2 separate regions of the Homo sapiens genome follow, and region 1 is linked to region 2. The links come from fine-mapping of genetic effects on plasma protein levels. A gene starts in region 2. The other region holds a variant in brackets. All regions are shown on one strand. Distances are from middle to middle.

Region 1 (16,199 bases), 32 kb after region 2:
GCAATTACGTGTGAAGCTGACAAATCAGAACATGATGATACCTTTAGGGTGCAAGAGATTCCTTTGAGCCTTTAGAACAGTTTGTTACTAACATATACATTCATCCCTGTTTATTAAAAATTGGCATAACCACACAAAAACAGTTAATACAGGAATAATTCTTCCCTTGATATAAAGTTTCCTTGAAGAGTTCTTCATGTATTCAGCTGCACTTGGGCAACTATTCTGTGACTTAGTTTCAGTTGATGATGTAGCCCTGGGAAGTCCTCTGTTCTGTAAAGGGAGGCAAGCCTGCTTTAGTATTTGTATTAGTCTGTTTTCATGCTGCTGATAAAGACAAATTTCAGACTGAGTAATTTATAAGCAAAAAGAATAATTGCCTCACAGTTCCACGTGGCTGGAGAGACCTCACAATCATGGCAGATGGCGAAAGGCACATCTTTTTTTTTGAGATGGAGTCTCACTCTGTTGCCCAGGCTGGAGTGCAGTGGCATGATCTTGGCTCATTGCAACCTCCGCCTCCTGGGTTCAAGCGATTCTCCTGCCTCAGCTTCCTGAGTAGCTGGGACTACAGGCACACACCACCACACCCGGCTAATTTTTGTATTTTTGGTAGAGACGGGATTTCACCATGTTGGCCAGGCTGGTCTCGATCTCCTGACCTCGTGATCCACCTGCCTCAGCCTCCCAAAGTGCTGTGATTACAGGCGTGAGCCACCACGCCCAGCTGAAAGGCACATCTTATATGGCAGCAGACAAGAGAGAAGAGAACTTGTGCAGGGAAACTCCTCTTTACAAAACCATCAGATCTCGTGAGACTTATTCACAGTCACGACAACAGCATGAGAAAGAACCCCCCCAGTTCAGTTACCTCCCACCAGGTCCCTTCCACAACATGTGGGAATTGTGGGAGCTACAATTCAAGTTGAGATTTGAGTGAGACCACAGCAAAACCATATCAGTATTATTCCAAAGGATGGTATGTTAGTTTCCTGTTCCTGCTATCACAAATTACCACCAACTTAGTGGAATCAAACAGTTCTCTTACCATCCCAGGGGTCAGAAGTCCAACAAGAACCTGCAGCGGTGTGTTCCTTCTAGGGGTTCCAGCTTCTAGAGGCCAACTGCGTTTCTTGGCTCATGCTCCTTCTTCTGCCTTCAAAGCCAGCAGCATTGCACCTTTTCTCCCGTCTGACCTCTGCTCCACCCTCTCATATTCTGTTACTCTGATTCTCCTGCTTTCCTCTTGTAAAGATCCTGGTGATTATATTAGGTCCATCCAGATAACCCAGGATAATGTTTCCATCTCAAGATCCTTAACATAATCCCATCTGCAGATTCCCCTTTTGCCATATAAGGTAGCATATTTGTAAGTTCCAGGAGTTAGGATGTCGAACATCTCTGGAGGGACATTGTTCAGCCTACTGCAGATGGCAGGGACTGGAATTCAGGGTCTGTTATCTGCCAGGAACTGTGTTACTATCTTATCTACTCATTACAGTCTTGCAAAGGAGGTGTCATTGCTATTTCCATTTTAATTGATGGGGAAACTGGCTCAGAGCAGTGAATTGCTTTTCCCAAGGCCACTCAGCTTGTAAACTGGGAACTCTTGTTCATCTGTTTCCAAACCTTGTGCGCTTCGTTTTGCAGCCTGGCTGGTCAGACAGAAGGTGGTGCCCAGAGCAGCAGATGGAGCTGTTAGAGATGTAGAATCTCTGCCCTGCCCAGACCTAATGGATCTGAATCAGAATTTTAACAAGATTCCCAGATGAACTGTATGGACAATGAGGTTCAAGAAGCACTGATAGATTGAGCATCCCTAATCTGAAAATCCAGTATGCTTCAAAATGTGAAACTTTTTGAGCACTGACATGACACCATAGTGGAAAACTCTACACCTTTGGTCCCAAGCATTTTGCATAAGAGATACTCAACCTATAGTAGTGATGATGAGGATGATGGCAGTGCTGCAGGAAAAGTACCCATAGATGACATGGTGAAAATGTGTGTCTTAGTCTGTTTTCTGTTGCTTATAATGGAATATCTGGAACTGGGTCGTTTATAAGAAATGAAATTTATTTCTTTCAGTTATGGAGGCTGAGAAGTCCAAGGTCAAGGGGCTACATCAGCTGAGGGCCTTCTTGCTGGTGGGGACTCTCTCTGCAGACTCTCAAAGTGGCACAGAACATCACATGGGGAGGGGGCTGAGTGTGCTAACTCGGGTCTCTGCTCTTCTTAAAAAGCCACCAGCCCAGGGCAGTGACCCACATCTATAATCCCAGCACTTTGGGAGGCCAAGGCAAGTGGATTGCTTGAGCTCAGGAGTTGGAGACTAGCCTGGACAACATAGTGAAACCCCGTCTATACAAAAAATAGAAAATTATCCAGGCATGGTGGTGCACACCTGTAGACCCAGCTACTTGGGAGGCTGAGGCGAGAGGATTGCTTGAACCTGGGAGTCCAAGCTTCAGTGAGCCGTGATCATGCCACTGCACTCCAGCCTGGGTGACAGAGCAAGACCCTGTCTCAAACAAACAAACAAACAAAAAACACACAAAAAAGCACCCTGTCCCACTCTCATGATAACCCATTAATCCACTAACTCATTCATTCATTAATCCATGAATGGACTCATCCATTCATGAGGGCATGGCCCTCACGATCCAGCCACCTCTTAAAAGCCCCACCTCTCAGAACTGCCACACTGGGGATTACGTTTCAACATGAGTTTTGGAGGACACAAATATTTAAACCATAGCAATGTGTGGTGAGCTTTTGAAGGACTAGAACAGCATGCATTCATAACAGATCAAGAAATTGTGTCAGTTAATAAAAGAGATTTCTAAGACAAAAGCCCTTGTTAATAAGGCAGATGACTCTGGAGGGAACTTTTTTTTTTTTTGAGACAGTCTCACTCTGTCCCCCAGGCTGGAGTGCAGTGGCATGATCTCGGCTCACTGCAACCTCTGCCTCCCGGGTTCAAGTGATTCTCCTGCCTCAGTCTCCTGAGTAGCTGGGATTACAGGCGCCTGCCACCACACCTGGCTAATTTTTGTAATTTTAGTAGAGATGGGGTTTCATCTTGTTGGCCAGGCTGGTTGAACTCCTGACCTCAAGTGATTGCCCTCCTCGCCTCCCAAAGTGCTGGGATTATAGGTGTTGAGTCACTGAACCCAGCTTGGAGGGAACATTTTTAAAAAGCCATCTAGCAGAATGCCTCCTCATCCCTGGCGGACTCACTTTCTGGTCCCTCAACTGCTTCTGATGTTTCTTCTCACCTGAAAAAATAAAATACAGTGCACAGGAGCCTTTGAGTCAGAACGCAGCATTGTGGGTGGAGACTGGAAGCCTGCTGTCATCTGTTGCTGCTGAACAGCTGAGGCAGGTATTCCAGTGATGCCACTGTGCTGCTTAGTTTCCCTGGGCACACTGTTTTCTCCCGTGTTAATGGTGTGTCATATTTTTTACTGTTAAGTACTTAGGTGTGAATAGGTGTAACAAAATGATTGTTTACTGGTAGCATGTAAATTGAGAGTCAGGAATCGCGGTGATGCCAAATCACCACAGATTGTTCACGTGGGTGGCTGAGACAGACACTTTTTATTTTATTATTTATTTGTGTATTTTTATGTATTTTTATTATTTTTTGAGGCACAGCCTCACTCTGTCGCCCAGGCTGGGTACAGTGTCATGATCTCGGCTCACTGCAGCCTCCACCTCCCGGGTTCAAGCAATTCTCATGCCTCAGCCTCGAGCAGCTGGAGTTACAGGTGTGCACCACCATGCCCGGCTAATTTTAGTATGTTTAGTAGAGACGGGGTTTCACCATGTTGCCTAGGCTGGTCTTGAACTCCTGGCTGGAAGTGATCTGCTTGCCTCGTCCTCCCAAAGTGTTGGACTTATCAGGCATGAGCCACCACGCCGAGTCGGGGCCACTTTTTAATGTATTAAATGTAATCTTGTGTGTATGCAAGTGGTTTGTGAACATTCCTTTTAACTGATAATGGTGTATATCAGGAGAACCATTATTCCTTTAGACTTACACATGCTCAGCATTTAAAGGGAAATGCTTTAAGTTTGTAGGTTTTGCTTTGCTTTTTACACAACACTGAATAACGCAGGATGACCTCTTCTTACAGGACTTCCAAAATAGCCCTTTGATGTTCAGGAAAACGGCCACACATATATACTTTAAAAGGGTCTTTATGCAGAATGCTTAAGAGAGCTACAATGGCTTCTTTCGTTTGGGTCTTGCACTTGTACATAACCCCTTACCTACCATCTCAAAAGTTCAGAAAGCTCTGAAAACTAAGAGTTTTTTCTTAAGTTTGAAACTAAGCTGGTGGCAAAACTGCCTTCCAAGTGACAAAGGGCTGTTTATGGTCTTTATTGATCCCAATATTTAGTGAGCATATTCATATGTTTTGCTAACAAAATATTACTGGATTTCATTACAGGGCACTGCCCGAGTCCCAGCTTGAAGTATTGTTTAATATGTGTTCTATGACCTGTCTTACCATTCTAAAGTTAGAAAAACTTGGAATTTCAAATGAGATCTGGCCTAGGGGGTTTGGGATAAGAGCTTATGGATCTGCAAAGTTGATACTTTGGGATTTATAGATGAAGAAGCTTTTCATCACTAAAAACAGAAGGCTTTTCTGATTTAATGTCATTCCCCGAGTTAACTTTCGCACATCCATTGCCCAGTAACTGCATTTTCAGAAGTTAAAAGGGTCCCAGACATCTGATATTTGAATTTTGGGGACCATTTCTATTGGGACCAAAGAGACTCAATATGAAAATGGAATTGAATTTAGAAATGATTCCAACAAATGGAGGAGAGGGAGCATGCACAAAAGTGATATTTGCTATAGATAAAGCAGAATAATCCACTTAGGTAGAAAAGTCTGAACTTCAAGGTAAAGAAGGGCTGGATTTGTGCAGATATGGCTGCAAAAGTCTGGAGAGGAGAGGAAGCAAATCAGTAGAGTGCGTCTAAGAATGGGAGATGCTATGGGGAAGTAAAGTAGAATTACTGATGAAAGGAGTTAGGCTTTTCTATCAGGAAAATGCCCCAGTGAGACCTGAAAACTTCTAATTCATCTAGTTTGGTAGCTGTTCACCTTCAATTAGATGTCAAGGCCTAGACCAAGGTCCTGATAACAGTAGCCATGGCCAAATGACCATCAACACTCCTTCCTCACTAGGAATTTTGTTTTTTTTTGTTTTGTTTTGTTTTGTTTTTCAGACAGAGTCTTGTTCTGTTGCCCAGGCTGGAGTGCAGCGGTACGATCTCAGCTCACTGCAACCTCCGCCTCCCGGGTTCAAGCAATTCTCCTGCCTCAGCCTCCCAAGTAGCTGGGATTACAGGCATGCACCACCAAGCCCAGCTAATTTTTGTATTTTTAGTAGAGACAAGGTTTCTGCATGTTGGCCAGGCTGGTCTCAAACTCCTGACCTCAGGTGATGCACCTGCCTTGGCCTCCCAAAGTTCTGGGATTACATACATGAGCCACCATGCCTGACCCCCACTGGGAGGTTTCTAATTCTGTAATGAATGTATAGAATTGGGAAATAAAGCCATTGAACAAAGAATGCTTTGGTTTGCTGGGCTTCAGGCAAAGAATAAAGCCCTTTGTTTTTCTGTGGTTCCACAATCCAGGAAGGTTGATACTCATTTTCCTCCAGCTGGGCAGACACAAACCCATGAACATAATTCTGGTACAAGACAGGCCATAATAAGCAAAGCCTCGGAGGCATAATTTTGAAAACCAAAGCCAGGATTGAGGCTCTGGCCAGGAAAAGGCCTTATCTCATTGCTCCAACCTCTGCTAGTTCGCCTTCTCCCAAGCTTAGTTCCAAGTTCCTAAAGGGCAGTGGGGGTGTGTGTGTCTGTGTGTCCGTATTGGTGTGTACTTTCATTTAGTGCCCAGTGCAAGGCACGTGGAAGGTATTCAGTGAATGCTGGTTAAATGATTCACAGTTTGTTTCCCGTGATCTTTAGCAAGAAGCCAGCACATGGTAGGCACCCAGTACAGTTTTCTGGAACACATGAATAAATAGTCAATTCATTTATTTAACAAATCTGTATTGAGAGTCTACTTTGCACCAGGCACTATTCTAGATGTTTGTGCTGTGTTAGTGAATGAAACAGACAGAAATCTGTGCTTCACTTAGAAATAAGGAATATAGATACATGTAGATATATTGAAACATGAAGTTCTCCGTGTTTTTTGTTGTTGTCATCCTAGTCTCCTGTAGGATTTAAATGAGGGTAGATACGGATCTTTTTATTGTTACTTTATTAGATTTTTAAATTCTACAAGTAATATGTAGAGACATTCTCCTTGTAAATTTAAAATCTATATTTAAAATAAACTTTGACCACCCCCTAAGTGCTTCCCTCGGGGTCACTGTGGTCAAAAGTGTGCATCAATGTCAGCATGCTCACCCTTTCCCAGCCCCGCCCCGCCCCTCCCCCTTCCTTTCCTTTCCTTTCCTTTCCTTCTCTCCCTTTCCTTTCCTTCTGCCCTCCCTTTCCTTTCCTTGATATAGCCTCACTCTGTCACCCAGGCTGGAGTGCAATGGCGCGATCTCGGCTCACTGCAACCTCTGCCTCCCGGGTTCAAGCGATTCTCCTGCCTCAGTCTCCCGAGTAGCTGGGACTACAGGTGTGTGTGCCACCACACCGGCTGATTTTTGTATTTTTAGTAGAGAGAGTTTTGTTATGTTGGCCAGGCTGGTCTCAAACTCCTGACCTCAGGTGATCCACCCATCTTGGCCTCCCAAAATGCTGGGATTACAGGTGTGAGCCACCACGCCCTGGTCAGCATGCTTTTCTTAAATACAAACGTGATCATACTGTGCACATTGTTGTGTGATTTACTTTTTCTCCTTCCATCTGTCTAGAAAACCTTACATTTGTACATACATGTGAGGCTTTTAATAACTGCATTGCGTTCTGTGGATGGGGATTTCATAATTGGTTAATCTTGCAGTAACGCCAGGTGGGAGTTAATTTGAACAGTGCTGCTGTGAGCATCCTCAGACGTGCTGTTGTACAGTCAGGTAAGTATTTCTTTAGGCTTGAAGTCCAAGAGGGTTGCCTGGGTTTAGAATCTGCCTCAGCGCCATTTGCACTGAGAGCACACCAGGCCGTTCTCTTAGCAGTTCTCTGGGGAACATCTCTCAGGGACAGGGACTGACCAGGACTTTTCTTCCATGCTATCTCTTATTTGTAGCCAACAGCCTCCATCCCTTTCATGTAAGCAATAAGTTCCTGCACCGCCTACCATGTCATAGATACTCAGAACATTTCCATTGAACAGAAACCGTTTTGTTCATATTAAAGTAGGATCTGTTTGTTTTGTTTGGTTTTGTTTTTAAAGAGGCTCAGTTAAATCACGTTTATTTCCGCAGCTGTGTCATTAGCCTTGCGTTGTTATGTTTAAGTGTCTACACCAGGCTCCAAGAAATGCCAGGATTTAAAGACAATTTACCCTACAGTTTAACACAGAGAAACATAAAAAGGGAGTTCTATGCGTGCAAGAGAGTGATGCCATAGTTGAAATATCACCAGCCTCTGGAATGGGCCGGGGCTGTCTGTGCTCAGATTTTCCAGCAGGTCGCGTGTGGGTCGAATGCTGAGCAGTAACCTGGGAGCAATCAGCCAAGCCCCCTGGCTCCTGCACTCCTTCACATCCAGTATGAGCCCGGTGAAATCATCCAGGCAATCAGTGACAATGCCGCCCTTCTGCTGAGGCTGATTAAAAGTGGTTGGAACTAATTTACCTTATATGACTAATTAGGGAACTGGGAATATTACTTAAAAAGTTGTTTCTGATTAGGTGTGTGATCGCCCTTCCACCCCTGCCAGCATTTTCTACGTGGCAGTCCGGCAGAGGAGACACACTGGCTGCTGTCAGTCCTTTATTCCAAGTCTCGGCGTCTTAACCCATTTTGTGCCTCGGATTCCTTCATCAAGTTGCTGAAGCCCCTGGATCCCATCTCAGAATAATATTTCTAAATACACAAAATAAAGTTCCTAGGATTTTCGAGGAAACCAATTCTATTGAAATACGGTTATCAAAATATTTTTTAAATTATTGGATATAGTAATAATTCATGTGTTGGTCTATTATATAACACAGTCTAATAGCAGAGCTAATAACTGTCATAGTTTCAAAATAGCAGTTGAGTTTAAGGCCAGGCACAGTGGCTCATACCTGTAATCAGAGCACTTAGGGAGGCTGAGGCGGGTGGATCACTTGAGGTCAGGAGTTCAAGACCAACCTGACCAACATGGTAAAACCCCGTCTCTACTAAAAATACAAAATTAGCCAGGTGTGGGGGCATGTGCCTGTAATCCCAGCTACTTGGGAGTCTGAGGCAGGAGAATCGCTTGAACCC[A/G]GGAGGTGGAGGTTGCAGTGAGCCGAGATCGTGCCACTGCACTGCAGCCTGGGCAACAAGAGTGAAACTCCGTCTCAAAAAAAAAAAAAAAGAAAAAGAAAAAATGGCAGTGAGTTTAAACCATACCCTGAATTAATCTGCAACAAGTGTGATGTGATGGGAAAAAAAATCCATGTGATCTCTGTTGGTGTGAAATTCAAGGGGGTTGTTAATACCTCTGTAATTTCTACTAACTTCATAATAGAAGGAAATGCTAAATATCAGAAGTTCATGAAAAAACTGGTTTCCTCCCATCGAAGTTCACAGGATGAACCCCAGATCCCCATGGCCCCAGAATAAGAGCCCACACCTGTGTGTACATACGCACATACTCTTGTTCTTTGACTTTTTGGAGGTACCTTTTCATGGTCAACATGTGGCTATTTTAATTGACCAAAATATAAACTCAATGGTGAAACTGTACCTTTAATTAAAGGCCAGAAGTCTTAATCGTAGCTAGAAAAGTGTGGATATTTGATTATTCAATGAAAAGAAGTAGCAAGAGCTCAATAATAGGGACTAGTTAACAGTTGCCTTTTGATTAGGTTAAAAATAAAAAGCATAATCTTTCCGTCTGGGTTCCAGTGTTTAGATCAAAAAGTGAAAACAGAGAGCCTCGCCTTATTTATTTGTTCAGTGAAGCATTTGAGAAGGCTTAAAATGAGCAAAAGCACACAGTAGAGAAGAAATATGTCAGGACCAAAGAAAATAAAAGTTCATATAGGAAGACAAAACCGCAGGGCGAAACAGAAAGGTCTTAAGAGTCCTTTTGGTTGATAGAATTCAGTTGAAGGTTCAGCCAGAGAGAGGTTGTCAAAGAAACAACATCTTATCCGTATCTAAGAGGAATTCAGCTTTTCCTGGAAAATCTTATCTTTAAAGAAAATTTTTATGAAACTTTCCTTCTGGGGCACTAAGTCATACAGTGTCCAATAGGGCAGGGGTTTTTTTGTTTTTTGTTTTTTGAGTCAGAGTCCCAATTTGTCGCTCAGGCTGGAGTGCAGTGGCGCGATCTCTGCTCACTGCAACCTTCCTCCTGGGTTCAAGTGATTCTCTCGCCTCACCCTCCCAAGTAACTGGGACTACAGGTGCCCACCCCCACACCCAGCTAATTTTTATATTTTAGTAGAGATGGAGTTTCACCATGCTGGCCAGGCTGGTCTCAAACTCCTGACCTCAGATGATCCGCCTGCCTCAGCCTCCCAAGTGCTGGGATTACAGGCATGAGCCACTGCACCCCAGTAGGGCAATTTCTCGGCGTAGGTTTCTTTACCTGGGTGTGAGCTCCATGGATGGGCTTCATCCAGCCAGTGGGCCCTGTCAGCTCTGCAAAGTCCAGTGTGTTTGCATAGATGCTTGAGGTCGTGATGATGCTCTGGGGACTGCAGTGGGGAGAAGGTCCACAGCTCTCATCAGATCCTTCAAGGACCTGGTGATGGTTCAGTTTACGTGTCTGCCTGGCTGGGCTAGGAGGTGCCCAGATAGCTGAGAAGACATGATTTCTGGGTGTGTTCGTGAGGGTGACTGAATGAAGAAGATATGCCTTCACTATTTTGGGCAGGCATCATCCAATGCATTGAGGGTTTGAATAGAACAAAAAGATGGAGAAAAGATGAATTTGCCTCCTGTTTGAGCTGAGACGTCTACCTTCTCCTGCCCCTGGACATCGGCACTCCTGGTTCTCAGACCTTTAGATTCAGACCAGCACTAACACCATCAGTTTCTCTGATTCTCAGGCCTTTGGATTTAGACTGAATGAAACCCCCGGCTTACATATGGCAGATGGTGTGACTTCTTGGCCCCTGTGACCCTGTGAACCCATTCCCTTACTAAGCCTCCTCTTACATATCTGTGTATCTCCTATTGGTTCCCTGGAGCACATGACTGATACAGGCTCCATGACTCAAAAAAAAAAATGAGGACCTCTGAGCAACCATGGAGCCAAAATGACTTGGGATCTGAATGCTCTTGTGTTCTGCTCCCACCTGGGAATGCTGTCGCTCATAGCAGACCATGATTGTAGAGGCCGTTAGGCAAATCGGCTATGGCAGTCTGATCAGAGACACCAGACCAGCCCTCTGAGCAGAAGAGTCCTAGAGCCTACCTCCTGTGCTTCCTTGGAGTTTTCTGTTTTTGCTTTTCTTTTTATTTGAGACGGAGTCTTGATCCGTCACCCAGGCTGGAGTGCAGTGGCGTGATCTCTGCTCACTGCAACCTGCGCCCCCCTGGTTCAAGCAATTCTCCTGCCTCAGTCTCCCAAGTAGCTGGGATTACAGGTGCCCGCCACCACACCTGATATGGTTTGGCTCTGTGTCCCCACCCACATCTCATCTTGAATTGTACTTCCATAATTCCCATGTGTTGTGGGAGGGACCCAGTGGGAGATAATTGACTTATGGGAGTGGTTTCCCCCATACTACGAGATCTGATGGTTTTATCAGGGGTTTCTGCTTTTGCATCTTCCTCATTTTTCTCTTGCTGCCATCATGTAAGAAACGCCTTCTGCCTCCCAGCCACGTGAAGCTGTAAGTCCAATTAAACCCCTTTTCCTTCACAGTCTGAGGTATGTCTTTATCAGCAGCACAAAAATGTACTAATACAATACCCAGCTCTCTCTCTCTCTCTTTCTCTCTCTCTCTCTCCCTCTCTCTCTCTCTCTCTCTATATATATATATATTTGTATTTTTTTTGTAGAGATGGGGTTTCACCATGTTGGCCAGGCTGGTCTCGAACTCCTGACCTAAGGTGATGCACCCGCCTCTGCCTCCCTTTGGGGTTTTCTGGAGCTAATGAACGCCTTCTGCAGAAGTTTGCACAATCCCCTGGCAAATCAACATGCCATAGACAAAGCGAGTGTCTTTCTAGCTTGTGCTTAGCTGACTGGATTATTTACATCTTCTTTTTCATTGTTTTTGCTCTAAACACTCATTTCCTGGAGTTAGAACATTTTGCCTCCTTGATGGGCCTATTTTCTGCAACGAAATGAAGCACTGAAAAGGAGCATGATCCCAAAGGGGTTCAATTATCAGGTAATTGGTCAAGTGATCAGAATGTGGAATGAAAAAAAATAATGAGAGGTTGGAAAATGGCGCATTTGAATGCCAGAACGGGTGAGGACATATATTTCGCGAACCCAGAATTTAGAAAGTCACCTGCATGTTTCAAATTCTGTATGGTTTTTCCCCAGTTCCTAAGTAGTTTATTGGAAAGCCATGGTAGGTTCTATTCAATATGTATTATTTGGTTTGTAGAAAAAATTTACCATTCCCTTCTTTCTTTATATATTATTTGAGTGAAATACCACTGTCATCATCCATAAATATTCTTGTGAAGAAATTTTGTATTGATCTGCAAGGTAGCAATGTAACAAATTTCACTTGGATAATATACCTTTCTTAATGTTTTTTTTCCCGAAAGCACATTAAAGCATATTTTATATCATACAAAGCTGCCTATTATGTCAGACAGTTAAATCTCTTTTATTAATTATATCCTAAGCAGGTTAACAGTACAGATTCAACAAGAGTTGCTATAAATATCTAGCAGCCAGCATAATCAGCTGTAGCTGTTAGCTGCAAAATTAAATGAATCTTGTCTGATAACATGTGTAATTTAAAAACTGGTAGAACGTGATGAAGCTTGAGCTGTTAGCAGTGTGGGGCTGGATCACTACCTGAGTAACGTTTATGCCTGCAAAGTTTTAGATCAATGAATTTACATACCTTCATTAATTAGGAAGAGATAATGAACAGCATTAGAGATGGAAGGGATTATGGCTCCATAAATTCTCTGGGACTAGATGAAAGTAAATGTGTTTAATCAAAGGAATAAATCATTTACTTGAGTTCCACTCCAGACTTCTTAGGTCACAGTGTTCCCAGTGCTAGCGGGGACATAGTTCATATGACAGACATGGTTTACAGCGTGACACTCTTCTGTTCCACCAGTCACTGCTCATGACCTTGAGGCTGGCAGGTGAGGTCAAGTTGTTTGACTTTAATTCATTTACTCATTTGTTTCTCTGATGGGAACCGAGGGGATCTGCCTATGTGTTTGCCCCTGCTTAGCAAGAAACAAATACGGTGTCTGTCCTCAGGACACTTACAGGCTAGACAGGCAGAGTCATGAGGCATCAAGAGGTACAAATAAAACAAAATGGTGGCTCTGAGCCTGTGATACCCAAGAGGGTGGGAGGTGGTTGAGTTAGAGAAGGCTCCGTTGAAACTGGAGCACGACTGGGTGGCTCCCACCAGGCTCATGGTTTATTAAAAATTCAAATCAGGCCAGGCGCAGTGGCTCATGCCTGTAATCTCAGCACTTTGGGAGGCTGAGGCAGAAGGATCACTTAGGTCAGGAGTTTGAGACCAGCCTGGGCAACATGGCAAAACTCCAACTCTACAAAAAAATTCAAAAATTTGGCCAGGTGTGGTGGCTCACGCCTGTAATCTCAGCACTTTGAGAGGCCAAGGTGGGCAGATCACTTGAGCTCAGGAATTCGAGACCAGCCTGGCCAGCATGGTGAAACCCCTCTCTACAAAAAATACAAGAATTAGCTGGGTGTGGTGGCATGTGCATGTTATCGCAGCTACTTGGGAGGCTGAGGCACGAGAATCGCTTGAACTTGGGAAGTGGAGGTTGCAGTAAGCTGAGATCGCACCACTGCACTCTGGCCTGGGCGACAGAGCGAAACTCTGTCTCAAAAGAAAAAAAAAAAAATTAAAATCAAACAGTACCAAAAGGTATCCAGAAAAAACCTTAATGTCCCTGTCACCATTGACCTGCTTCTCAGAGAAAGCTACAGTTAATGCTTTTTCATGAAAAATTATGGAAACTTGTCAAGTATGGGTACACTTGCATGTGTAGCTTTTTGTAAAAAAAAAAAAAAAAATGCAAATGGGAGCAAAAAAGACACAATGTTTAAATACCTTGTTGTTGTCCTGGTCTTTCCATAGCAGGATATGCAGATTTGTTTCACTTTTTTCAGTGGACAAAATACCAGCTTGTATTAGGTTGGTGCTCAAGTAATGGCAGTTTTGCCATTACTTTCAATGGCAGAAACTGCAATTACTTTGGCACCAGTTTAGTATTTGAGGCTCAGACTGTGTCCGAAGTCCTGCCAGAACCAGCACTGCAGGGCCCCTCCTGGAGTCCATACGTTTGTGTACATGGGCAGCAGTTGAGAACTGGCCTGTGATGTCAGATGGCTTAAATTCAGATCCTGGCTCTCTTGTTTCCTGGCCAAATAGCTTTGGGCAAGTTATCTAATCTCTCTGTAGCTGAATTTCCTTATCTGTAAAATGCAGATAATAATGGTACTCGCATCATAGGTTTCTCATAAGACTTAAATGAAATAATCTATAAAAGTGCTTAGAATATTGGCTGGCATTTAATACAGCCCAATAACTACGATTACTTCTATTTTTAATAATGACTCTATTGAGATTGAATTCCATACCATGCCACTCATCCATTTCCATTCATTGGTCTTTTGTGTATTTGCTGAGTTGTGTAATGATCACCAAAATCAGTATTAAAACATTTTTACCAAGGCGAGCCATGGTGGGCTCATGCCTGTAATCCCAGCACTTTGGGAGGCTGAGGCAGGCCTCGGGAGGATAGCCTGAACGCAGGAGTTTGAGACCAGCCTGGGCAACATAGTGAGACCTCATTTCTTTTTTTTTTTTTTCAAGGTGGAGTCTTGCTCTTGTTGCCCAGGCTGGAGTGCAATGGCACCATCTCGGCTCACTGCACCCTCCGCCTCCCAGGTTTAAGCAATTCTCCTGCCTCAGCCTCCCAAGTAGCTGGAATTACAGGCATCCACCACCACACCCGGCTAATTTTTGTATTTTTTAGAATAGAGATGGGGTTTTACCATGTTGGCCAGGCTGGTCTTGAACTCCCAACTTCAAGTGATCCACCCACCTTGGCCTCCCAAAGTGCTGGGATTACAGGCGTGAGCCACCGTGCCCGGCGCAAGACTTCATTTCTACAAAAATTTTTTTTTTTTAATTAGCTGGGTGTGGTGGTGTGTACCTGTAGTCCCAGCCACTTGGGAGGCTGAGGTGGGAGGATTGCCTGAGTCCAGGAGGCAGAGGTTGCAGTTAGCTGATATTGTGCCACTGCACTCCAGCCTGGAGGACAGAGTGGAACACTGTCTCAAAACAAAACAAAACATTTTTATCAACCCAGAAAGAAACTCCGTCCCTGTTAGCTGTCATTCCCTATTTCCCTTCACCTCCGACTCCAGCCCTAGGCAGCCACTAATCCACTGTCCGTGTGTAGATTTGCCTATTCTGGATATTTCATATAAATGAAATATACAGTATGCGGCGCCTTGGGATCGACTTCTTTCACTTACCATGATGTTTTCAGGGTTTATCCATGTTGTAGCTGTTGTTGAATAATATTCTACCATATGGATATACCACATTTTATCTATCTACTGCTACTACTTTTTATTATACTATGAGATAAATTCTTAGAAGCAGATTGTTGATTAATTTGAATCACTTTATTCAGATGATAACATTAAGGAAAGTGGAAATTAGATTCTTGCCCTGACATACAGCATAACTAGTACAATATCATATTTTTACCTCCATTACTAAATAATATCCCTAGTGGTCCAAGAAATTGAATTCACCATCTCCGTGGCGTTACCCTCTTCCCCCGACAAAGAAGTAAAAATAAATGAGAGAGTATTTTTAATGTGGAAATTTAAGTCCCAGGGGACTAAGCAGAAGAGGGAGGCCCAGTTCCCTGCCCTTGGGCAGACCCCAGGCTGTCCTCTCAATTAGCCGAGGATATGTTTATTTTAAGACTGTAACTCTTCTTTCCATTGTTCCCATTTAAAAAAAAAATTTACCTTTCCTATGGTGCTGACATTGTTCACTTTTTTTTTTTTGGAGACAGAGTCTTGCTTTGCTGCCTAGGCTGGAGTACAGTGGTGCAATCTCAGCTCACTGCAACCTCCACCTCATGTGTTCAAGTGATTCTCATGCCTCAGCCTCCCGAGTGAGTAGCTGGAATTACAGGCACGTGCCACCATGCCCGGCTACTTTTTGTATTTTTAGTAGAGGTAAGGTTTTGCCATGTTGGCCAAGCTGGTCTCGAACTCCTGATTTCAAGTGATCCGCCCGCCTCGGCCTCCCAAAGTGTTGGTATTATACTATGAGCCACTGTCCCTGGCTCACATTTTTTATCCAGAACATGTTGTCTGAAGATTAAGCCCAAACTTTTGGAAAATAGGAAGCGATTTTACTAGTGTAGTTCCATTGCTGGTATCCATAGCTTTTATTTATTTCTGGTTAACTAGTCTCTTCACAGGGACACCATTTTTCCTGATTGATTCATTATCATTGGGTAAACCTAAGCGGCTACTAGAAATTGAGAAGAGCTTGTTACTAATGTAAATAATAGTACTCGTCATAGTATAGAGCCACAAAGATTGCTGTTTTATTATGAAATAGTTGTACTTTTATCCCTTTTTGCAGATGACCAAACTGTCAGGTCAAACAACTTGCCCAGCACCGCCCAGCTGATGGGTAGTGACCATGTGCTTCCAGCCCATCTCAGAAACTCAGAACTTCTCCTCTTTTCTTTTCTTTTTTTTTCTTTTTCTTTTTCTTTTTTTTTTTTTTTTTGAGACAGAGTCTGGCTCTGTCTCCCAGGCTGGAGTGCGGTGGCGCAATCTCGGCTCACTGCAACCTCCGCCACCCGGGTTCAAGCAATTCTCCTGCCTCGGCCTCCCA
Region 2 (16,199 bases):
AGAATGGCTACTCTATCGGCAGAGCAGCCCTGAGGGTTGCTGGTTGCACATTTTTATGGTTATTTCTTGATTGTATGCTAAACAAGGGGTGGATTATTCATGAGTTTTCCAGGAAAGAGGTGGGGAATTCCTGGAAATGAGAGCTCCCCTTTTTAGACCATATAGGATAACTTCCTGATGTTGCCATGACATTTGTAAACTGTCACGGTGCTTGTGGGGTATCTCTTAGCATGCTAATGCATTATAATTAGTGTATAATGAGCAGCGAGGATGTCCAGAGGTTTGCTGTCATTGCCATCTTCATTTTGGCTGGCTTCTTTACTGTAACCTGTTTTATCAGCAAGGTCTTTGTTTTGTTTTGTTTTGTTTTTTTGAGATGGAGTCTTGCTCTGTCACCCAGGCTGGAGTGCAGTGGCATGATCTCGGCTCACTGCAACCTCCACCTCCCGGGTTCAAGTGCTTCTCCTGCCTCAGCCTCTCAAGTAGCTGGGATTACAGGCACCTGCTACCACACCTGGCTAATTTTTATATTTTTCATAGAGATGGGGTTTCTCCACGTTGGCCAGGCTAGTCTCAAACTCCTGATCTCAGGTGATCCGCCTGCCTTGGCCTCCCAAAGTGCTGGGATTATAGGCATGACCCACCGCGCCCAGCCTAGCAAGGTCTTTACGACTGTATCTTATGCCGACCTCCTAAGGTCCATCCTGTGACTTAGAATGCGTAACCTCTTGGGAATGCAGCACAGCAGGTCTCAGCCTTATTTTACCCATCCCCTATTCAAGATGGAGTCTCTCTGGTTCAAATGCCTCTGGCAAGACCAGGCTGGGCATGGTGGCTCACGCCTGTAATCCCAGCACTTTGGGAGGCCGAGGCAGGTGGACCACTTGAGGTCAGCAGTTGAAGACCGGCCTGACCAACATGGTAAAACTCTGTCTCTACTAAAACTACAAAATTAGCCTAGCATGGTGGCATGCACCTGTAATCCCAGCTACTTGGGAGGCTTAGGCAGGAGAATCACTTGAACCCCGGAGGCAAAGGTTGCAGTGAGCCAAGATCACACCACTGCACTCCAGCCTGGGCGACAAGAGCAAAACTCTGTCTCAAAAAAGAAAAAAAGTGTGAACCCCAAATGTCTGAGACAGTTCTCAGACAATTTAGGAAGTTTACTTTGCCAAAGTTAAGGATGTGCACCCATGACATAGCCTTGGGAGGTCCTGATGACACGTGCCAAGGTGGTCGGGGCACAGCTTGGTTTTATACATTCTAGGGAGGCATGAGACATCAATCAATATATGTAAGATGTACATTGGTTCCGTCTGGAAAGGCGAGACAACCCGAAGTGGGGAGGGGGCTTCCAGGTCACAGGTAGATAAGAGACAAAAGGTGGCTGGGCACGGTGGCTCATGCCTGTAATCCCAGGACTTTGGGAGACTGAGGCGGGCAGATCACCTGAGGTCAGGAGTTCAAGACCAGCCTGGCCAACACGGCAAAACCCCGTCTCTACTAAAAATACAAAAATTAGCTGGGCGTGGTGGCAGATGCCTGTAACCCCAGCTACCTAGGAGACTGAGGGAGGAGAATCGCTTGAACCTGGGAGGCAGAGGTTGCAGTGAGCAGAGATCATGCCACTGCACTCCAGCCTGGGCAACACAGCAAGACTCTGTCTCGGGGGAATAAAAAAAAAAAAAGGTTGCATTCTTTCCAGTTTCTGATTAGCTTTTCCAGAGGAGGCAGTCAGAAATGCATTTATCTCAGTGAGCAGAGGGATAACTTTGAGTTCTGTCTGTCCTTTGTCTACAAGGAAATTCCTTCTGAGCGACGTACGTAGCTTTTTTATCTTAGTAGGTTTTTTTTTTTTTTTTTTTGAGACAGTTTCCTTCTGTCACCCAGGCTGGAGCGCAGTGGCACAATCTCAGCTCACTGCAACCTCCGTCTTGTGGTTTGAAGCGATTCTCCTGCCTCAACCTCCCGAGTAGCTGGGATTATAGGCATGCACCACTACAACTGGCTAGTTTTTGTATTTTTAGTACAGATGGATGTCTCACCATGTTGGCCAGGCTGGTCTCAAACTCCTGACCTCAAGTGATCCTCCTGCCTCGGCCTCCCAAAGTGCTGGGATAACAGGTGTAAGCCACTGTACCCAGCCTTAGTAGCTGTCTGTTTCAGCAATAGAGTGGGAGGCAGGTTTGCCCTAAGCAGCTCCCAGCCTGACTTTTCCCCTTGGCTTAGTGATTTTGGGGTCTCAATATTTATTTTCCTTTCACAATTGCAGCTATTGCTATCATCCAATGCACTGGTACAGTTTTGAAGTTGCTCCAGATTGGCCTATAGATCTATTCCCAATTGCTGCTGAGGTTCAAAATATGGTTATCTTGTTGAGATATTCATAATCCATTTATTTATTAATGCAACAAACATTTAGTGTCTATGCCTCAGGCATCCTGCTTGGTGAGCTAGACAGTCAAGGTAACTGCCCTCAGCTGGGCGTGGCGGCTCATGCTTGTAATCCTAACACTTTGGGAGGCTGAGGCAGGAGGATCACTTGAGGCCAGGAGTTCAAGACCAGCCTGGATAACAGTGAGACACCATCTTTATAAATAATAATTTTTTTTTTGAGACAGAGTCTCACTTCGTCACTCAGGCTAGAGTGCAGTGGCACGATCTTGGCCCACTGCAACCTCCGCCTCCCAGGTTCAAGTGATTCTCCTGCCTTAGCCTCCCAAGTAGCTGGGATTACAGGCGTGCTCCCATGCCTACCTAATTTTTATATTTTCAGTACAGATGGGGTTTCACCATGTTGGCCAGACTGGTCTCGATCTCCTGACCTCAAATGATCTGCCTGCCTTGGCCTCCCAAAGTGCTGGGATTACAGGCGTGAGACACTGTGCCCGGCCAAAACAGTAAATTTTTTAAAAAGGTAACCAACTTAATAGACCTTATAGTTGAGTCGGGAAAGTCAACATTAAATAAATAATTACACCTGAAAACATATAATTATCAACTGTGCAAAGTGCAACAAGGGACAAGAACATAGTGCTCTAACAAAGAATGAGGGAGGCCTAGTTTAGATCAGCAAAGTGTGCAAATGGGTAGGGCATGGCCTCTCCACAGAAGTGTTATTTAACTGCAGGCCTTCATGTTCAAATGGGCTTTAGCTCAGCAGGGGAAGATACTTTTTTGTTTGTTTGTTCGTTTTTCAGACAGAGTCTTGCTCTTTCACCAGGCTGGAGTGCAGTGGCGCGATCTCAGCTCACTGCAACCTCCGCCTCCCGGGTTCAAGCAATTCTCCTGCCTCAGCCTCCCGAGTAGCTGGGATTAAAGGCACGCGCCACCACATCTGGCTAATTTTTGTATTTTTAGTAGAGACAGGGTTTTACCATGTTGGCCAGGATGGTCTTGATCTCTTGACCTCGTGATCCACCTGCCTTGGCCTCCCAAAATGCTGGGATTATAGGCATGAGCCACGGTGCCCAGCTGGGAAGAGGCATTTTAAGCAGAAAGAACTGCATATGCAGAGAGGGAAATTAATTTGCATGTTTAATGAACTGAATGGCCAGTATGACTGCAAAGCTAGTGAATAAGAGGCAGGGTCTGTTTCTATAATTCATTCTCTCCTTCACATTTCTTTTAATTAAAAAAAATTTTTTAATAGAGATGAGTTCTCACTATGTTGCTCAGGCTGGTCTTGAACTCCTGGGCTCAAGTAATCCTCCTGCCTAAACCTCCCAAAATGCTGGGATTACAAGCATGAGCCATTGTGCTCAGCTTCCCCTTCACATTTTTTTTTTTTAAAGACACAGTCTCACTCTGTCGCTCAGGCTGGAGTGCAGCGGCGGGATCTCGGCTCACTGCAACCTCTGCCTCTCGGGTTCAAGTGATTCTCCTGCCTTAGCATCCCGAGTAGCTGGGACTACAGGCGTGCACCACCACACCCAGCTAATTTTTGTATTTTTAGTTGAGATGAGGTTTCACCATGTTGGCGAGGGTGGTCCCGATCTGTAGACCTCATGATCCGCCACCTCCACCTCCCAAAGTGCTGGCATTACAGGCCTGAACCATTGCGCCCGGCCTCCTTCACATTTCTTGGGACTCCTCCTCTGGGCCAGGCCATGTTCAGGGAATAGGGTTATAGTGATTGATTAATAATAACAATGGCTAATATTCATTGAGTACCTACCATTTGTTATTAGAACTATTATTCTAAGCACTTTGATACATGAACTCATTTAAGCCTTTCTGCAACCCTATGACCTAGATGCTACTATTGTTTCCATTTCACAGATAGGGAAACTGAGGCATAGAGAAACTATGCAATTTTCAAGAGCATACAACCAGTAAGTGGGTAGAACCGGGATTAATCCAAGCCCACTGACTCCAGGACTCATAGGCATTTATACTCTTAACCACTATGATTCATGGGTGACTCTTGTCAAGGATTAGAGAACAGTAGTTATGGCCATATTAGCTACTCAAACAGTGCTTTGGATGTAGGCAGCTAGTTTAGAAAAGAATTTCCCAAATTTGTAAGATCATAAGAGCTCCCCTGCAGTGCTTGTTAAAAACAGATCATTTTCAGGCCAGGCACTGTGGCTCATGCCTGTAATCCTAGCACTCTAGGAGGCCCGGGTGGGTGGATTGCTTGAGCTCAGGAGTTCCAGATCAGCCTGGGCAACATAGTCAAACTCGTCTCTACTAAAAATACAAAGTATTAGCCAGGCATGGTGGCGCACGCCAATAGTGCCAGCCACTTAGGAGGCTGAGGTGGGAGAATCACCTGAGCCCAGGAGATCGAGACTGCAGAGATTGTGCCACTGCACTCCAGCCTAGGCAACCAGAGTGAGACCCTGTCTCAAAACAACAACAACAACAACAAAACACAGATCATTTTCATAGAGATTTGGATTCAATAGGTCCATTCTGGAATTTGTATTTTCAACACGTTTGACAAATGCTGGCTAAGTAGTTCACTACAATGGCTCTTGAGTTGAAGAGACACTAATTTGGTTACTCGCAGCTTTACTACCTCTCTAGATGTGTGTCACCTTGTGCAAGTTCGTTCATCTCTCTGAGCGTCAGTTTCCCCAAATGACGGATGCAGCTAATAACAGCACCACCTCCTAGGGCTGTAGTGGGGATTAAGTGAGCAGCGTGCAAAGTGCTTAGCGCCCTGCCTGGTGCATAGCAAGCAAAGATAATAACAGAAAGATGGTGGCAGCCACTGGGAAGTTCAGGCTGAGACAGTCTTCCAAGACGTCCACCTTTTCATCTTTTTTTTTTTTTTTTTTGTATTGGCAAGGTCTCTCGCCGTGTTGCCCAGGCTGGTCTCCAACACCTGGACTCAAGCGATCCTCCCTCCTTGGCCTCCCAAAGAGCTGGGGTTACAGGCGTAAGCCACCCCAGTGGCTCCTTCTGACTTTATGATAGAGTTGTCAGATAAAAAAAAATCAGGACGCTTCCATTCAAACCTGCAAAAAGAGAAAAATTTAAAAAAATTAGGACGCCCAGTTCAATTGGAATTTCAGATAATGAAAAAAAAATTTAACGTAAGTAGCTCCCAAATACTGCATAGGACATATTTATACCAAGTCAGTCATTCTTTAAAAAAAAAAATCTGAAATTCCAATTTAACCGGGAGTCCTGCATTTTTACTTGTTAAATCTAGTAACTCTGCCTTTAGGGAAGGACTGACCCCAAAGCCTTATCCCCGCCCACGCGTGCCCTAGACAGTCTCCACTCGCCAGGCGCGCAGGTCGATCCCAGAGGGGCCGCTGGCGCCTCCGCTCCGCCCAGGCAGCACTAGTGGCGCCCCGAGCCACCGGGCCCCTCCCCGTCCCGCCCCAGTCCCGCCCCGAGATCAAAGGGCGTCGCCCAAAGCGGGACAGGTCCAGCGGTTGTTCTGTGTGAAGTCGCGCGGCTTCCACCCACGCAGTGTTCTAAGTGAAGGCCAGAAACTCGCTCGCCATGTCGGCTGCAGAGGCGGGGGGTGTTTTCCACAGAGCCAGGGGCAGGACCCTGGCCGCGTTTCCCGCAGGTACTGCCCGCCCCTCACCCGGGGAGGGGACTCTGGGGCTGCGGAACCTTCCGCCGGGGGAACCTTTTGTTCAGGTGTGCGCTCCGCCAGTCGGACACCATCCGGGGCTGCACCGGGGCCTGGGAGCCGCCATAGCTGCATCAAAGCCTGCTCTTAGGGATTCCAGGGGCGCAGTTGAGAGGCGAGGCCGAGAGAGCGATCTGGTCTAGGAGCCTCCTTGGCCTTGACCTAACTTCCCCCAGAGAAGGGAAGTAAGAGGAGGGTAGCAAAGCATAGTTAATGACAGCTTGGACTCTGCAGCGAGACCTGGTTTCCAAGCTGTGCATTAGCATCTTGGCCTCAGCTTCCACATCTGTGAAACGGGAATACTTGTGGGTGTTACTGGATAAGCGTTCGGTGCATGTTAGAGGGTGTCGGTTTTATTAAGGTTGTTCACCGTTATGTATTCTGTACTCCATAATGACGTTTATTTAAGTCATTCACCGAAATGGTAACACTGCCCCATCAGAGCAGTAGAGAGGGAGGGCATTCGAGAGTCGTAGTGAAGTGCTTGGATTTTGGATTTAGATTATCTGCTTTGCCTTAAAAATGGGTTTGATAATACCTGCCTCATAGGGTTGTTGGAAGCGTAAACAGATCAAAAGTATTTTTGTAACCCGGTGTTGGACGCATGCTAGGTGCTAAGTAAAGAGGGAGGTTTGTTTCTGGTTTGTTGATTCCCCTCTGTGGCTTTTTGCTGCCTGCAGCCAGATCGCCTCCCAGGCTCTCACCAGCTTTATACCCCCAGGGAAGTCACCCTAAATGCCCTATATGATCAGGCTTGTGTCCACTTCCTTCAGGGTTGTCATTCTCTCTCTTGCCCAGTTCTGCAACAGGTTTTGTTGTTGCCCTTGTTTGAACTGCATTTAAAAGGGCCAAGGCCGTTCTTTCCCTGAGGGTCTTGGCGCTTGCTGTTTTCTGCTTCTTTAGCAGGGTTGGTGAGCCTGGCTCTCTCAACCGTCACACCTCATTTTAAAGTTCATTCACTTCCTCAGAGACTTTACCTGCTACCTTATCTAAAGTAGGTTTCTCCGGTAATTCTATGGTAAAACCTTATTTATTCATTTAAGGCGGAGTCTTGCTTTATTGCCCAGGCTGGAGTGCAGTGGCACGATCTTGGCTCACTGTAACCTCCGCCTCCCGGGTTCAAGCGATTCTCCTGCCTCAGCCTCTGGAGTAGCTGGAACTATAGGCACGCACCACCACGCCCGGCTAATTTTGTATTTTTAGTAGAGATGGGGTTTCTCCATGTTGGCCAGGCTGGTCTCGAACTCACAACATCAGGTGATCCGCCGTCCTCAGCCTCCTAAAGTGCTGGGATTACAGACCTGAGCCACCGCGCCCGGCCTGGGACGACTGTATTTTAATGGACCTTGTCTTTTTTGTCCAACATGAAGATTTTGCTCTTTTCTTGCTGGGCAACATTCCATTGGATGATTATATACCTTATACATTCTGTTGATGTATATGCTGAATATCTTCCCTTTGCCTCTCCAAACCTTTCTCCCTTCCCCACCATGCCCCAGGGGTTTGCCCTCCGTGAGCTACATCGGTGGGCTCCTTGCCTTTTGGTTTTCCTTTGGGCTCAGCCAGTGGGGAGCCCTGAGAAGAAATCAGAGCAGGGAGAGAAGCAAAAGGCAGCTGTATTTATTCTTGCAGTTTACTCTGTGGGGTTGCCTCGCCTGGCTGTCTTCCTCCCCACCCCTGAAGGTCAAGGTCGCTCCTTTTCTCAGGACAGCTTTTCTCCTCATTCTCTCTAGTTCTGGATTTGAGTAACCATTTCCTCCTTTGAGGCGTGGGAGTGGCAGTGGTTCTGCTTTTCTAACCTTGGGTTACCACACTCCCTTGTAGGTTTCGTCCACCCAACCCCCACCAAGTAATCCCTTTTTAAACCCTTTTTAAAATCATCCTAATTTGAGAATGCCAACTATTTCCTGCAAGGATCCTGACTAATACAATGGCCATTTAGTTGTTTCTGGTTTTTGCCCTTGGTAACAGTGCTGTTATGAACATTCTGTACAAATCTCTTTGTGGACACATGGGAGAGTTACTCTGAGGCATATACCTACAAGCTATGTTCTGGGTTATAGGGTATAATCATCCCCAGCATTACTAGATGTGGTCAAACTGCCTTCCAAAGTGGTAGTGCCAATTTATACTCCCACCAGCAGTATATGAGAGTTCCCTGTTACTCTGCTGTATTATTTTTTTTTTCAGTTCAAGAAATATTTGTTGTGGGCTGGCTGCGGTGGCTCACGCCTATATATTTGTTGAGGGCCGGCCGCGGTGGCTCACGCCTGTAATCCCAGCACTTTGGGAGACTGAGGCGGGTGGATCACCTGAGGTCAGGAGTTCGAGACCAGCATGGTCAACATGGTGAAACTCCATCTGTACTAAAAATACAAAATTAGCTGGGTGTGGTGGCACATGCCTGTAGTCCTAGCTACTTGGGAGGCTATGGCAGGAGAATTGCCTGAGCCTGGGAAGCAGAAGTTGCAGTGAGCCGAGAATGTGCCACTGCACTCCACCCTGGACAACAGAGCAAGACTCCAGCTCAAAACAAACAAACAAAAAAACCGAAAGGAAATAAATATTTCTTATATTCCTATTGCACTGTCCAGTATGGTGGAGAATAGGAAGTTGGGGGCGGGGGAGTGGTTCAAGTTACATGCTCTCAGAGGCTTGTAATAATCCAGGTACAAAGCTAGGGCACAAAAAATAATGCTTGGCTACTGGTGGGCTCTGAGGTCATTCACGCAGGGTTTCCCTGAGGAAGTGTTGCTTCGTCTGATTGCTAAAAGAGGAGTATGAGTTAACTGGGCCACGAAGGGAGGGAAGACCATGTGGACCATGGGCAGAGCAAGTGTGAGAGTCCTAGGACATGGCAGGATGGGAAAGGGAAGGATGAGGGCTGAAGGAAGTCTCTGAGTCTGGAGCAGAAAGATGAGGTTGGGACATGGTGTGGGCTGAGGCTGGAGAGGGAGGTGGTGGTAACTAAGGATTTTTGTCGTGTCCTAATAGCATCAAGAGGTTTCAAGCTGGATGTGTGAGGAAGCAAGGATGTATGATCAGATTTTTATTTTGAAAAGAGTGGTCTGATTGCAGCAATGGCAACAAAAGCATTTCTACTTTAGAGCAACTTGGGATGCAATCCAGTTGGAAGCTGGAGCTCAAGGATTTGTCCAGAGGCTGCATTTCTGTAGTCCCCCATGGTTTACTTTTTTTTTTTTTTTTTTGAGACAGAGTCTAGCTCTGTCACCCAGACTGCAGTGCAGTGATGCTACTCACTGCAACCTCCACCTCCCACGTTCAAACGATTCTCCTGCTTCAGCCTCCCGAGTAGCTGGGATTACAGGCATGTACCACCATGCCCGCTAATTTTTGTGTTTTTAGTAGAGACAGGGTTTCGCCATGTTGGCCAGGCTGGTCTGGGACTCCTGACCTCAGGCACCTCGGCCTCCCAAAGTGCTGGGATTTACAGGCATGAGCCACCGCACTTGGCCCCCATTGTTTACTTTGAATGTGTTTATTTGCTGTAGCTGGAGGTGCCTATTGGGCACGGGGTGTCTTTCAGTGGAGATGGTGGGAGTGCTGAGGTATAGTAGCTTCCTAGGCCATTGCAGCTGCCAGGGGGCCACCACTGGGACCAGAGGATCAGAGAGCAGCTCCCCTGGATAAGAATGGGGATGCTGGAGAGAGACTTGATGATAAATCTATAAGATACCTACCCTGCTGATAGGAGGAGAGAGTGACTCTGAACTTTTCTTAGCCCCGAGTAAATCTAGAAGTGGGGCCAGCACTTGATCTCCTCTGTGAGCCATGCAGTCCCATAGACACACCCAGGATGGGTCATTTAACGGAGGGCCTAGAGAGGCCCAGCCTCAGAGTGTTCTGCTGAGAACCCCAGGTTTGTGGGTTCACATTACTAGGTGCTGAACCCTAGCCTACCATTGCTGCTTCCATTGCACTCATTGACAATTCCCCGGGGTCCTGACTCTATTAGCATCGCTGGCAACTTGGAGAGGTGCCCTTAGAGGCATCAGAGGCCTCTCCAGACTCCTTGGGAAGCCAGTAGATTTGCCCCTTGGGCAGACTGAGAAAGTTAAAGAACTAGCTTTTCGAGGCTGGGAGCAGTGGCTTACGCCTGTAATTCCTGCACTTTGGGAGGCCGAGGCAGGTGGATTGCTTGAGGCCAGGAGTTTAAGACCAGTCTGGCCAACATGGCGAAACCCCATCTCTACTAAAATTAAAAAAATTAGCCGGGTGTGGTGGCAGGCACCTGTAATCCCAGCTACTTGGGAGGCTGAGGCAGGAGAATCACTTGAACCTGAGAGGCGGAGGTTGCAGTAAGCCAAGATTGCCCGCTGCACTCTAGCCTAGGAGACAGAGTGATGACTGTGTCTCAAAAAAAAAAAAAAAAAAAACTGACTTTTCCCCTTCTCTTGCCAAAACACACACCATCAAAGGGGTTTGATTAACTCAAGCAACAGTCCCTAAAAATCACAGCTCTGAACCCTTCACCTTTGCTGCAGAATCAGCTCATTGAGCAGTTTGTTTTCCAAGTGTAGCCTGCCAATTAAATGAAAGAGCGCTTTGCTTTAAGACCCATTTCCTCCCACCGGTGATTTACGTGAGTAACAGTATTCCCATCAACTCCTTCCAGTAGTGGTATGTGTGACACTTGGTTTCAGTCATCCGTTCCCTGTTAACATAATGTGCTAGGCTCTGTTGACGGATGTTGATTAAAAAAAATTGTACATGTCTCACCTGAGAAAGCTCACATTCCTAAGGCATGTTCAGATATTCATTTTAATTAGGCAAATTGATAATTAGGTTTTCTTGACACATATCCTAATTAGGACTACTTTCTTCTAGTAATTGTCTTTTGAGAAGTTTATGGCTTCTGTTTTGAAGAAATCCTAAAAGGGAGAGAGATCAAGATAAAATATGCTTTTAAAGTGACTTAATTATTTTTAGGTCTGAATCTGTTTTTCCAGTTTGATATTTTCCCTTCAGAGAACTGGACTAATGGGTGGTATTCTTAAAAAGATTATTTTCCCAGACATTTCATTCCTAAGAAGCTGATGGAATTTGCTAATCCTGAATCTTTCCTTGTACTCTCTGGAAAACTTCTCCCTTGGCAGAGAATAGTGTCAGTAAAAAAATAACTCACTCTGTCTCTTGCAGGTCTCACCTAAGAACTTTTCTAGAAATAGTAGACCTGGAAAGGTATCTCCAAGTTTGAACAAAGTTGAAAATATTGTGGTTTTAAAAATTCTAACAGGATGATGATGATGAAATAAATGCTTTAAATTGTGCCATACATTTAGGCCAAACTAGTTATCTCTTATTTGAGATATATTTGAAGGTCCTCTTATTTGAGAGTTCCTGTGAGTAAATAGGGCTTATGATTACTTTCTCAACTCTTTGTTGTAATCATCAGTCAAGGGATAGAGTGACCAGCACACATATGTAAAAAGTTTGCACTATAACATTTCCAGAAAACACAATTAATTTTATTTTTGAATGTCGGGGTTTTTCATTTTCAAAAATTTATTTATTTATTTATTGTATTTTATTTCTTTTGAGGTGGTCTTGCTCTGTCACCCAGGCTGGAGTACAGTGGTGTGATCATGGCTGATTTGCAGCCTCAACCTGTGGTGCTTAAGTGATCCTCCCACCTCAGCCTCCTGAGTAGCTGAGACTACAGGCGTGCACCACCATGCCTGGCTAATTTTTAAGTATTTTTTTGTAGAGACAAGGTCTTACTGTGTTGTCCAGGCTGGTCTTGAACTCCTGAACTGAAGCTATCCTCCCACCTCAGCCTCCCAAACTGTTAGGACAAGCTTGTCCAACCCATGGTCTGCTGGCCACATGTGGCCCAGGATGGCTTTGAATGTGTCCCAGCACAAATTCCTAAACTTTCTTAAAAGTTCGGAATTTTTTGCCATTTTTTTTTCAAGCTCATCAGCTATCATTAATGTTAGTGTATTTCATGTGTGGCCCAAGACAGTTCTTCCGTTGTGGCCCAGGAAAGCCAAAAGATTGGAAATCCCTGTGCTAGGATTACAGGTGTGAGCCACTGGGCCTTGCCTGCTTTAAAATTTTTTTTGGAGACAGGGTCTTACTCTGTCACCTATGCTGGAGTGCAGTGGCATGATCTCCGCCCACTGCAGCCTCCCCCTCCTGGGCTCAAGCCATGCTCGATCCTCCCACCTCCACCTCCTGAGTAGCTAGGAACAGAGAAGGTGCTACCACGCCTGGCTGATTTTTATATTTTTTGTAGAGACAGTTTCGCTGTGTCACTCAGGTTAGTCTTGAACTCTTGGACCCGAGCAATCCTCCTGCCTTAGCCTCCAAAAGTGCTGGGATTACAGGCATGAGCCACCGCACCTGGCCTAAATTTTTTTAATAACTTTCTTGAGGTATAATTTATGTACCATAACATGCATTTTAAGTTTACAACTCAAGGGATTTTATTAACTTTAGAGTGGTGTAGTCACAATCTAACTTTAGCACATCTCTACCTTCCCAAAAAAGTGGTTTTATACCCACTTGCAAGTCTCTTCATGTTGCCACTCCCAGCACAGGCAACTGCTAATTTACCTCCATAGATGGGCCTTTTCCGGACATTTCATGTTAATGGAAAAATATGTGGTCTTTTGTGACTGGCCTCTTTGTGGTAGCATAAGGTTTCTGAGGCTCACTTATTTTGTAGCTTGAACCAATACTTTGTTCCTTTTTACTAAATGATATTCCATTGTATAGATAACCCATTTTGTTTATCCGACCACCTATTGATAAACATTTGGACATTTTTTTTTTGACACTGATGGACATTTCACGCATCTGGGTACCTCTTGTCTATTGGGAATAAAGCTGCTATGAACAGTCACAGACACATCTTCTTAAGGGTATTTGTTCTCATATCTTTTGGGTAGATACCTAGGATTGGAATTGCTGAGTCATACGGTAACTATGTTTAATATTTTGAGGAACCACCAAACTATTTTCCAAAGCAGATGCGCCATTTTACATTCCCACCAGCAGTGTATATGGGTTCCAGTTTCTCCATATCCTTGCCAACATTTCTTATTGCCACTCTTTTTTATTATAACCATCCAAATCGGTGTGAAGTAGTATCTCATTGTGAGTTTTTTTTGTTGTTTTTTTGAGACAGAGTCTCACTCTGTCGCCCAGGCTGGAGTGCAGTGGCATGATCTCGGCTCACTGCAAGCTTTGCCTCCTGGATTCAAGCGATTCTCCTGCCTCAGACTCCCAAGTAGCTGGGATTTCAGGTGCACACAACCACACCTGGCTAATTTTTGTATTTTTTAGTAGAGATGGGGTTTCACCGTGTTGGCCAGGCTGGTCTGGAACTCCTGACCTCAGGTAATCCACTTGCCTCAGCCTCCCAAAGTGCTGGGATTACAGGCATGAGCCACAGTGCCTGGCCAGTTGTATGTTTCTTCTTGTGACTTTGCTGTCTTTTTCTACCTGTACACTATAAATTCTTGAGGAGCAAGAAGCCCAGACCTAGGATGGTGTCTAGCAGTAGTAGACACTCAGTGGCTTTTTTTTTTTTAAGACAAAGTCTTGCTCTATCGCCCAGGCTAGAGTGCAGTGGCGTGATCTTGGCTCACTGCAACCTCTGCTTCCTGGGTTCAAGTGATTCTCCTGCCTCGGACTCCCAAGTAGCTGGGACTACAGGTGCATGCCACTGCACCTGGCTAATTTTTGTGTTTTGGTAGAGATGGGATTTTACCATGTTGGCCAGGCTGGTCTTGAATTCCTGACCTCAAGTGAACTGCCCACCTTGGCCTCTTGAAGTGCTGGGATTACAGGCCTAAGCCACCACGCCTGGCCTCAGTGACCATTTAATATTGAGTAAATGGATGAGTATGAATGAATACACTCCACCTGGGTCACCTGGGTGTATCTGTCCAACCCACTGCTCTCATGTACCATGGAGTCTCCGGACTAAACAAAGCTGAGACCAAGGTGTTGATCAAACCAATAGAAGTTGTTGGCTGGGTACAGTGGCTCACGCCTGTAATCCTAACACTTTGGGAGGCTGAGGCGAGTGGATCGCTTGAGGTCAGGAGTTTGAGACCAGCCTGGCCAACATGGTGAAACCCCATCTGTACTAAAAATACAATGATTAGCTGAGCATGGTGGCTGGCACCTGTAATCCTAGCTACTCTGGAGGCTGAGGCAGGAGAACTGCATGCGCCTGGGAGGCGGAGTTTGCAGTGAGCCAAGATCATGCCACTGTACTCCAGGCTGGGCCACAGAGCGAGACTCTGAAAAAAAAAAAAGTTGCATGACTACACCAGGTGGCTGTGCACTGTGTGCACTACTCCAGAGCATCTAGAGGCAGAGGTTTTGCCTACCAGGTGGGTGCCCTCACATGGAGCACATCTGCCCGGGGGAAGGGTTACCTTCTCTTTGCATCTGGGGCTTCTGTTAGCCTGGCCATGTGCCTACACAGCTGCTTCTGCCCAGAGAAGGCGCCTTCTACCAGTTCTTCCCAGAGTGCTGCCTGGGACAGCAGCTGCCTGCTGTCTTGTTAGGGAAATGGGAAAAAAAATAACAGCAAATATCCACCAAAACCAGGCAAACCCCAAGTGGAGTTCTGCTCTTGAAAAGTGAGAGAGGTTCTGGAAATGTCTTTTCCCCTCTTTAACCGTTGTCTCGAATGGCGTCAGCCAAAGCCAGTGATGCCAAAAGCCGCCTGGCCACGAAGTCCCAGCCCATCTGCTTTCTTAGTTCTCTGAAGAGTTGCAGATAAAGATTTTGGAAGGACGGCCATTGTGGCAGCCAAGCCATGACTCAGAATCTTTTGTGTGTCTCAAAAACTGCCTTTTGGATGCATTTAGGCCAAGAAAAGAGAGGTTGGGTAAATTTACCTTTGTACAGGTTGAGCATCCCTATTGCAAAATGCTCTAAGATCCGACCGAAACTTTTTGAGCACTGACTTGATGATCAAAGGTCATGCTCAAAAGCATTTCGGATTTCAGATTTTACAGATTAGGAATGCACTACCAGTTTGCATATGCAAATGTTCCAAAATCTGAAAAAAGTCTGGAATCTGAAACTCTTCTGGTCCCAAGCATTTCAGATAAGAGATATGCAACCTGTACTTAGGACAAGTCATTTGGAGACTCTTGAGGATATTGCTGTCACAGTTAATTATTTTGGGGGTGGGGGGAGGGACAGGGTCCTGAAGGACACTATTTTTTTTTTTTCCTTTAACAACTGTTAGCATACCCTACAGTTCACCATGTGAATTGTTAATTAAATAATATTTACCACTTTGGGCTTCTTTCTGATTCAACAGTGTAAATGTGTACAATTCAGTGGCTTTTAGTGTATTCACAGAGGTGTACAACCATCACAATCAATTTTAGAACATTTTCCTTAATCCAAGAAGAAACCCTGCACCCCGTGCTGAAACTGCCCCCAAAGACCCCCAACCCCTAAACAGCCACTAATGAAGGACACTCTTATCTGCTGCATACCATTCTGGCAGCTTCACAGTGGGGACATTACGATTGTTAAGTCAGAAAGAGTCCCAAAGTGGTAAATATTGTTTAGCTACTCTTTGGTGTGTGATTTTTTTTTTTAAACTGCTGAAATAAGATTAGTCCCCAGAGCAGTTGAAGGGTATTGCTGGAGACATTTAGATTGTGATTCACTATGCAGATTGCTATTGTGAGAAACTGCAAAAATTGCATTTTGTTGCCATTTGCTCTTTAGCTAGAAAGCCTGCAGGCGGCTGTGAAGCTTCCCATCTTTCCTGCTTTATAACCAAAGCAATATCCACAGTATATAAAGGAAAAGATGTTAAGACCAAAGCATGTAAATATATATGTGTCTCTCATCAGATGTTTTCTCAGCCCCACCATGTGCTGTGGGAACCAAGAGATAGGTGAGTCTTTAAAAAGCCTGTCTCTGCTAAGATAAGGGTAGGGGTTACTGTGAATGGTAGTCATGGCACGAGTAACTCACTTTTGACCACTTGCTCTGTGTCTAGTCCAAATGCTTTACATGTTTTAAGTCATTAATTCTTCTCAACAACCCTTTTGAGGTAGGAGCTGTTATTCCTACTGTGCAGATAAGGAGACTG

Alleles and levels. Positions count from the first base shown, and alleles are read on the strand shown. Strength reflects both the effect of a copy and how common the allele is.
In carriers of allele A in region 1, the plasma level of the protein whose gene starts at base 5,851 in region 2 tends to be lower than with G alone (strong association).

What was found. PIP is the posterior inclusion probability: the model's chance that the variant is causal. The UK Biobank Pharma Proteomics Project read protein levels with antibody pairs (Olink). The fine-mapping took linkage between variants from a reference panel, not from the people measured, so its PIPs are less certain.
Region 1: its variant is fine-mapped to the plasma level of the CPPED1 protein (UK Biobank, PIP above 0.99).

Annotation. Positions count from the first base shown.
Region 1 is chr16:12,761,169-12,777,367 of GRCh38, reverse strand. All of the region lies in intron 2 of CPPED1 (calcineurin like phosphoesterase domain containing 1), which reads left to right. Among named protein-coding and RNA genes, the nearest start is that of CPPED1, 35 kb to the left of the region's middle. The variant A/G (reference allele first, on the strand shown) is at 8,410.
Region 2 is chr16:12,793,539-12,809,737 of GRCh38, reverse strand. CPPED1 (calcineurin like phosphoesterase domain containing 1) reads left to right here and starts at 5,851. Exons shown (of 4, transcript NM_018340.3): 1 at 5,851-6,031. The coding sequence starts at 5,962. RefSeq lists a silencer at 5,770-5,819 and enhancers at 5,900-6,269, 7,592-7,671.